Homo sapiens: one gene and its partners. The gene in region 1 interacts genetically with each later gene. Each region holds a gene or a part of one and is shown on either strand. Other genes may lie near its edges.

Region 1 (2,394 bases):
TCTAAAGTGTGGAATCCAGGTTGCAATCAGCTTATAAAGGAGCTTGACACCACACTAAACAATTTGTTAGTGGAAGTCATTACCAGGGCTTGGATCCTTTCCTCAAGGTAGGGAAGCCCTGAGTTTCATAAACTCTAATGAAGTAATTTCTAAGTGAGAAATTCAGTTAGGGGACCATACCAAATCTCAGCCTTAGAGACCTGCCTATCAGCAAAGTGGCCACCAAACAGAGGCCACTGCTGCCCAGATGCAGCAAAACTGGTATCACAGGGCATGTGTGCTACAGGCTCGGCTGGCACTGAGCACTGTGCAAGCTGTGCCTCCCACACAGTCACAAGGAAGTTAGATTTGTATTTTCATATAGAATCATTTTTGATGGGTACACTGCCATCAGAGATTGTAGGAATCCAGGGGTGCTTAAAACATACAAGCGTGTATGTGCGCATGGGCACGTGAAAACATACACGGAACTGAATTTGGGTTTGCAGCATGGCTGGGAGACTTGGTTTGGAGGTTGAGATTAGAACCCTTGGTTTAGAGTTAGAATTGATGTGGGATAACAGGTGAGAAGGCTAGACTGAGAGCTGGAAGGACAGGATGCCATTCTGGCTCTGGTTTATATGAACTGTGTAGTCCTGGGCAAATAGCAAACCTACAAACTGCAGTGTTCTCAGTAGTGTATCTAATGAAATTATGAATATGAAACCCCTGGCCAAGCACGGTGACTCACGCCCGTAATCCCAGCACTTTGGAAGGCTGAGGTGGGCAGATCATGAGGTCAGGAGTTCGAGACCAGCCTAGCCAACATGGTGAAACCCCGTCTCTACTAAAAATACAAAAATTAGCCGGGCGTGGTGGCAGGCGCCTGTAATCCCAGCTACTCGGGAGGCTGAGGCAGGAGAATCACCTGAAACCAGAAGGCAGAGGTTGCAGTGAGCCAAGATCACCCCACTGCACTCCAGCCTGGGCAACAAGAGTGAAACTCCGTCTCAAAAAAAAAAAAAAAAAAAAACCTTTGAAAATGATAGGCTATTCAGATAGTTGATTATATAAAACTATATTTCTATCTGTAAAGGTAGTTTTTACTTACTAATCTTCCACTGATGTGGTAAAAACACGTAGAAGGAGCAGAAGTGTTTCTGCTAACACTGGAATACCAGGTGTCATTCAAGGGTTGGAAGAGATGAGTGCCCTTGGGTTGTTGGAATGATGTGACACCTTTTGGCTCTATAATAAGTGGTCTCAGAAACTAGGATACTTCTTGACTTGTGTCTGCTTTTAAGTTTTCCACTCTCAGCCTGTTCTGGAGCTGAAAGGAAGCTAGAGTCATATAGCCAAACCTTTGAATTTTAAAGATAAGGAAACTGAAGCCCAAAGAGACTGAATTGCATAGCAGAATCATGGAGCTGCTGACAGCACTGAGACTAGAATCCATGCTTTATGTCTCCATCCCCTTTCCCATGTGATCCTGTGTTCTTCCCTTTTCTTTTTACTCATGGCGGTACACCTATCTAATTTAGCAGTCTCTTACATTTCTTCTACCATTTGATGTAAGCCTAGAAACTGGAAAAGCAAACTTTTAAAAACGGAATGATTGAAGTTTTCTTTAGTAAAGTTTAAAAGTTAAAGTGTAATAAAAAAATTTTCTTTTGCTTTTTAACTTTCATTATGGCTACTCCAAGGTCATCCTATACCTTTTGAATTTTGGCCGTGCAGTTGGAAGGATAGAATTGCCATTAGCTGAGATAGGGGACACTGCAGGATGAGAAGTGCGAGTGGAGAGGGTAGGGCTTCAGGTTTGGAAATAGAAGTTTCAGATGCCTACTAGACATCAGTGGAGATGTTGAGTGGGCAGTTTGGACATTAGAAGTCTGAAATTCAGAATAGAGATTTGGGCTAGATAATAAACGTGGAAGTTGAAAGAGTGTAGATGACATTTAAGGCATGTAAATCACTAAGAGATCACCAGTGCATTCAGTATAAATAGAGAAGTCCGAGGACCAAGCATTCAGGCACTCCTGGTAAGACGTTGGGGAAATGAGGGGGAACCAGCATAGGAGACTGGAAATTAGTGGCCATTGAAGTTGGGGAAAAACTAGAAAGACACCCCTGGGAGAAACAGTGGTGTCCTGGAATCCAAGTGTTTCAGGGAGAAGGGAACAACTAATGGCGTCAAATGCTGCAGGGACTTGATAGATGAGTCAATATGGCTTCGAGGTGCTGGAAAGCAGCACACGCCTTTGGACGCTTAGCCCTAAGGTGGTAATCAGCACATGTATGCACTTTAAAAAAAAAATTGTATTACAAACAGATATTAAATAGAAGCATGTTTAAATTTTGGAATAAAAATGAACGGTAATAGACAAAAAGTGATTTAATGGGAAGATGCAACGT
Region 2 (3,400 bases), on another chromosome or scaffold:
ACTACAGGTGCATGCCACTATGCCCAGCTAGTTTTTGTATTTTTAGTAGAGATGGGGTTTCACTATGCTGGCCAGGTTGGACTCAAACTCCTGACCTTGCGATCCACCCATCTGGGCCTCCCGAAGTGCTGGGATTACAGGCGTGAGCCATCACGCCTGGCCTTATGTTGTCCTTTTACAAGTGTTTCTGGGATGTGCCCATGGTGAAGGCAGTAACGCCAGTACCTCATTTCACGCACTTGGATCCTGCCTACCCCCAGTAAGTGGGAGAGATTGGGCCAGATAAGACCACACCATTGGGCCAGGCACAGTGGCTCATGCCTGCAATCCCAGCACTTTGGGAGGTTGAGGCAGGTGGATCACCTGAGGTCAGGAGTTTGAGAGCAGCCTGGCCAACATGGTGAAACCCCGTCTCTACTAAAAATACGTGGTGGCACACATCTGTAATCCCAGCTACTTGGGAGGCTGAGGCAGGAGAATCGCTTGAACCCAGGAGGCAGAGGTTGCAGTCAGCTGAGCCGAGATCACACCATTGCACTCCAATCTGGGCAACAAGAGCGAAATTCCTTCTCAAAAAAAAAAAGTGAGTACACCATTGAATCTTCTGTTGTTTAGGGAGATGAGAAAGGTCCTGAAGTACCAAAAACATAATGATTTGGACCTTTCTCTTGTCCTCAACTCTGATTTGCATTTACCTTCAACTATCAAGTCACATTCTGCTGTCCGAAAATCCAAATCTAGTCTACTAGCTAGATTACACTTCATTAGAGGCAGGACTTTGGTTTGTCTATTTGCCTCTCCTTTTCTTTAGGTCATGATACAGTGCCTGACATGCGGTGCAAGCATGGTACTTGTATTTTGGTGCTGTCCCTGTAAGTCATCCAGAGGTATCCCCTGTAGGGTGTCTAGCACATAGTAGGTGTTTGTTAATTACTTCTGGTCTATAAGCAGTGAAAGCATGATAAGGTAACAGCAGTGAAGAAAAGTAACAAACAGTTCCTAAACTAGATACAGGATATCTGTTTAAGCCATTTAAGACAGCATTTTCTTGAATTTTTGCATGGGTCTAGCTAGAGTTCTTATGTAGCGTAAGCTTGCAACCAGAGAATGCTTAATAAATGTTAATTGCTGTCTGACTCCTCTGAATGTGGTGTGTGAACTGATACCTTTGGATCCTCATGCCTCATTCTGTCCCTGAGACTTATTCTAGATGTCACTTCCCCTACTTCACATTATACACGAATGTTCTGAGGACATTTGAGATGGAATCTAGCTCACATTTTCAGCACTAGTTTCCAAGGAACACAAAGAAGTCCAGTGACATGATCCAGGCTCTCAGCCTTACAGATCATCATGTAGATTAAGTGGCCGAGGCTCTTTCCTATGCAGAAACCTTCCTACAACCAAGGTACCCCTTGTTATTATTGTCTTCCTGCAACTTTCATAATTGATAAGGGAATTAGACAGGTAAGCTAAGCTAGGTATTCTCATTTATAATTTTTCAAAGCCACAAGAATAACCAGGAGACAGGGATGATGTCTATGGACATTGCTACCAGAGGACTGATTTGTAGGTTCTTATGGTGCCACATCATGTAATCCCCTTAATCTTGATTCCTTTATTCCTTTTGTTTACCATTTTCCTCAGTTCGCCCAACCAGAAAATAAGAAAAATAGCACTAACATTTATGAAGCTCTTAATATATGCAAGGTACTTAGCTGAACATTGTTTTCCAAAAGTTCTGTGTGATACAGATGAGGATGCTAAGGCTTAGAGATGTTAAGCAACTTGGTTAGCCCAAGGTCACGTGGCTAATAAGTGACAGACCCAGGACTAGGGCCTAGGTGGTCTGACTCTTTTTTTTTTTGAGACGCAGTTTCTTTCTTGTCACTCAGACTGGAGTGCAATGGCACGATCTCGGCTCATTACAATCTCCGCCTCCCAGGTTCAAGCGATTCTCCTGCCTAAGCTTCCCAAGTAGCTGGGATTACAGGCACATGCCACCATGCCTGGCTTTTTTTTTTTTTTTTTTTTTTTGAGACAGAGTCTTACTGTGTCTCCCAGGATGGAGTGCAGTGGTGTGATCTTGGCTCACTGCAACCTATGCCTCCTGGGTTCAAGCAATTCTTCCGTCTCAGCCCCCTGAGTAGCTGGGATTACAGGCGTGCACCACCACGCCTGGCTAATTTTTTGTTTTTAGTAGAGACAGAGTTTCACCATGTTGGCTAGGCTGATCTTGAACTCCTGACCTTGTGATCCACCCACCTTGGCCTCCCAAAGTTGCTGGGATTACAGTCATGGACCACCGTGTCCAGCCTAATTTTTGTATCTTCAGTAGAAATGGGGTTTCACCATATTGGTCAGCCTGGTCTCAAGCTCCTGGCCTCAGGTGATCTGCCTGCCTCGGCTTTCCAAAGTGCTGGGATTACAGGCGTGAGCCACCACGCCCGTCGTGACTCAGTGTTTCTTAACCTTTTATTTTTTTTTTCTCATCATTGCACCCCTAAGGAGAAAGGTTAAAAGTTAATGTAAATTAATTAAATTTTGGGGCTGGGCAGGAGCCTACCATCTTAAAGCTAAGCTGTAAGTAGGCCAGGGGCAGTGGCTCACGCCTGTAATCCCAGCGCTTTGGGAGGCCCAGGTAGGCGAATCATGAGGTCAGGAGTTCGAGACCAGACTGACCAACATGGTGAAACCCCATCTCTACTAAAAATACGAAAACCAGCTGGGTGCGGTGGTGGGTGCCTGTAATCCCAGCTACTCAGGAGTCTGAGGCAGGAGAATTGCTTGAACCCAGGAGGCAGAGGTTGCAGTGAGCCCAGATAGCGCCACTGCACTCCAGCCTGAGCGACAGATGAGACTTCACCTCAGAAAAAAAAAAAAAAAGCTAACCCGTAAGTAAAGAACAGAGCTGTGCAGATTGGAGGATTGGGTCATACCATTACTTGGTACCTTCCAGGAATATTTGGGTATCTATAAGGATAGTTTGTAAACCTTGACCTGATCCAGTCTTCTTCTTTTGCAGCTGAGGAGTAATATAAGTCCCAAGAGAAGCAACTTGCCCACATTTGCACAAGTCAGTAAGGCACAGTTTAAGCTATCATCATATCATGAGTTTCATAGCCTCTCTAAAGAGTTGAGAGTCCTGTTATTATGTCTAATATCAGGCCTTTGTCCAGGAGAGGCAGCTAGTGCCTCATTTTTACGAGGACATGAAATATAGATTACGTTGCTTACTTGGGTTCACCTAGCAAGCTATTGGTAGGCGGCTTCCTTGGTACACCAGGCTTCAGAGATGGAAGTGCTCAATGTAATGACTCGATACTTCTTTTCTAGGAGATCCTAAAATGTTAGTGTTAGTTGCAGAGATTTTTGTAGTTGTTGATGTCTGCCCCCAAAG
Region 3 (3,662 bases), on another chromosome or scaffold:
CTCAGCATTTCCAGGCTGCAGTGAGCTATGCTCACTCTACTGCACTCCAGCCTGGGTGACAGAGTGAAGCACAATCTCTAAACACACACACACACACACACACACACACACACACACACACACACACGCATGCACACACACAGATATATATAAAAGTATACTGTCATTTAAAAAGATACATTATTTATATATTTTGACGTTTACTATGCAAAATATAAAGTACTTACGAAAGAAGTAGGATGAATGGTATAATAAACACTTATGTACCTGTCACCTGAATTCAAATAGTTTACATAATTATCAACATGTAGCCAATCACGTTTCATCTATAACTCTACCTTTCTGAGGCAGACTTCAGACTTCAGTATATATAGAACATAAATTCATAAAGGCAAGTATTAGATTGGGAAAATCCCTTATACAATGAACGTGTATTAAAAACACTTCTTCCTTACTACTTAAAAATATATTAAATTATACTTAGCACCCAGATCTCAGTTTCTAAATATCATTTTCCAATAAGAATTCTCCAACAGTTCCTTGAAAAATGGCTGTTTCTAGGGCTGGGGCAGAAACAATACAAGACAATGAGCTTGGAGCATCTTAAAGTACCAGGAAGTCGGAACACACTTCAGAAAAGTAAAAGGATGGTGGCATGCCTAAAAGGACACAAGAGCCAAATGAATTGGGTTCCCAGAGCTGAAAGAATTTAAGCAACAATATAAACAAAAGTATGGGATCATAACCTGAAGAATAAAATAAATAACCATCAGTCCATACTGATATACCCAAATAACTGAATAAATAAATAAATGGGACAGAGAGAACAAATCTTCCTTGCAGAAAAATTCAACTAACAAGTGTAGAATGAATAAAGAAAACTGAAAATCACTATTAAAACACCATGGAAGTAATTGCTGTAGATAAGATTCCCTGATGAATGCTAAAAATAGTAGGAAAAAGTTTAAGGAAAAAGAAGATGTTTGCCTAGCCTCAAGGTAGCGCGCTATTAATTACTACAGTGATTTTAATGTAAGCCCAAAAACTTTTTGATACTCCTCCCTCTAGAAACTGAAATACAGTGCCTGGAATGCAGGCAGGGTTTAGTGACCTATTTCTAATGAACAGGGTATAGAAGAGGAAAAATTATAATTTTACCATGGAGAAACCTGGCAAGTACCAGCTTAACCAAGTGATTAAGGTTAACATCACCAGTAAAAGTCATGTTGCTATCATGAACCCCTGATATGATGCAATGAGAAGGGCCCTTTATTTCTGTGATAGTTTTCTCAAAAATTCAAAAGTCTCAATCTAATGAGAAAACGTCAGACACACCAGAATTGAGGGACATTCTACAAAATACCTGACCACTGCTTTCAAAGTGTCAAGGTCACTGCTATGTGAAATCCTAACCCCTAGGGTAATAGTATTAGGAGATGCGGCCTTTGCAAGGTGATTAGTTCATAGGGCAAAGCTCTCATGAACGGAATTAGTGTCCTTACGAAGAGACCCCAGAGAGCTCCCTTGTCCCTTCTACCATGTGAGGACACAGAAAAGATGGCCATCTACAAACCAAAAAGTGGGCCCCCACCAAGCCAATGAATTGGCCAGTGGCCTGACCTCGGACTTCTAGCTGCCAGAACTGTGACAAATTAACTTCTTCTATTGTTTATAAGCCAGTCAGTCTATTGTATTTTATTACTGCAGCCCCAAAGGACTGAGACAATCGCAAAAGACCAAGAAACTGTCACAGATTAGAAGAAACCAAGGGGACATGTGACTAAATGTAATGTATAGCATTGATTGGATCCTGAAAAAGAACATGAGTGGAAAAACTGAGGAAAGCCTCAGTTTTTTGTTTTTTTTTTAAAGTCTGTTGTTTAGCTAAGAGTACTGTATCTATGTTAATTTCTTAGTTTTGATAAATGTACCATGGTTACATAAGATGTTAACAATAAGGGAAGCTGAGTGAAGGGATATAGAAACTATTTGAACTATCTTTGCAATTCTCTTATAAATCTAAAATTATTTCAAAATAGAGTTTTAAACAATAAAAAAATACATACACTAAATTCAGGTGTCCTAAAAATAATTTTTATAAGGATTGAAACATAAAACCAAGATTCCTTCAAGAAATAAGAACCATAAGAAGCCTTATCCATTAAATAATGAACACTTCTTGTCAAAAAGTGAATGCTTGTTTTACAAGAACAATCTCAGGTATGCTTTTCAATTTATAACCAAAAAACAGCAAAGCTCACATACTGACCTGGCTTTTATTAACATGATCGTTGGGATGCACAGGTATCTTGCTGCCAAGTTCACCTCCTAACATTTCAATTGCTCTATTGCTAATGACTTCATTTACATTCATATTTGTCTGAGTTCCTGATCCAGTCTGCCATACCACGAGAGGAAAATGATCATTTAATTTACCTTCAGCTACCTGCAGAAAAAATGTTAAAAATGTATTTTAAAAAAGGAAATAATAATGCTGATTATGCCACAGAGTTTGAATACAGTTGACCCACATATCTAAGCTTCTGAAGCATCACTTGCTCCAACCACAGATACTTTAAAAAGTGAAATATTATCTATAGTGAATGGTATGACAATTCACTGGTTTCAAATGAAAAGGGAATCAAAGGTATCTTTCTTATCTCTCTCCCACAGCCTCCTCTAACAGAGGACCACCTGTTAAGGCTGGCAAATACGTTTAGTCTCTAGATATATTTGTTGCTGGTGCTCAGCAGGAATATCCAACAGATGTTATTGCCAGAGTCAGCATGCTAATGAGCTAGTAACTTGAAAATGTGAGTTCACTAATAGCTACTTCATTGCACAGATGTCCAATGAGCAGTAATCACCAAATGTAGAAATAAACGCTGCCCAGATTTGCCCCTATTTTTGTTGTATTTTTATACATCCAGCTTATGTGTTAGTTTTTGGATGGTGTGCTTTGTAAAATATGGGTGGTTAACAATCTTCTGGAATGATTTTAGCTTAAAAAATCAGAATGCACTTGAGAAATCTATTACCTTGAACAACTGGTCCACTTTAAAATAAAACTTTTTTCTGGTTATATAAAAATATGTGATTAGTGTAGAAAATTTTGAGAACTGAGAAAAGTAAAACAGTCACTATAGTTCTATTGCTCAGTAATTATGACTATTAGCATGTTGGCATCCCCAGTCTCTATCTCATGCAATGAGGGTGTGTGTGTGTGTGTGTGTGTGTGTGTATATGAGAAACACACACTTTCTGTTCATTTTTTCCTAAACAAAATTAGGATCGTAAAATACATATATTTTTGCAAACTTTCCTCCCTATTTCTCATAGGCTAGGCTTTGTGCATGCCAATCTTCAAAAAAGTAATTTTCTATAATTTACCATATAAATATAATTTATATAAGTAGCTGTTATAGTTACGCATTGTCTAATTTGTTTTCATTATTATAAATAGTGCTGTAATTAACAACACTATATATACAGTTCTGTTACCTCTGATTGCTTCTTTAAGACAATGTTATTAGCATATTAGTAAAATTACATTCTCAATATGCATTATCAAATAATCAACTGGTTTTAAAAAGATTTATATATAAAATAAAAAATCAAGTAAAGTTCAAATGATATCTTTTCAAAAAATTTTCTTAAAACTA

What was found.
Region 2: changes in ADPRM (region 1) and PHF5A together harm fitness less than expected from each alone (positive genetic interaction), as found in Homo sapiens cells (one large-scale study listed by BioGRID).
Region 3: changes in ADPRM (region 1) and FH together harm fitness less than expected from each alone (positive genetic interaction), as found in Homo sapiens cells (one large-scale study listed by BioGRID).

Annotation. Positions count from the first base shown.
Region 1 is NC_000017.11:10,707,439-10,709,832, forward strand, and holds part of ADPRM (manganese-dependent ADP-ribose/CDP-alcohol diphosphatase), read left to right. Parts: intron 1-2,394. UniProt on the Homo sapiens protein: Hydrolyzes ADP-ribose, IDP-ribose, CDP-glycerol, CDP-choline and CDP-ethanolamine, but not other non-reducing ADP-sugars or CDP-glucose.
Region 2 is NC_000022.11:41,462,362-41,465,761, reverse strand, and holds part of PHF5A (PHD finger-like domain-containing protein 5A), read left to right. Parts: intron 1-3,400.
Region 3 is NC_000001.11:241,509,698-241,513,359, forward strand, and holds part of FH (fumarate hydratase, mitochondrial), read right to left. Parts: intron 2,447-3,662; coding exon 2,270-2,446; intron 1-2,269. UniProt on the Homo sapiens protein: Catalyzes the reversible stereospecific interconversion of fumarate to L-malate. Experiments in other species have demonstrated that specific isoforms of this protein act in defined pathways and favor one direction over the other.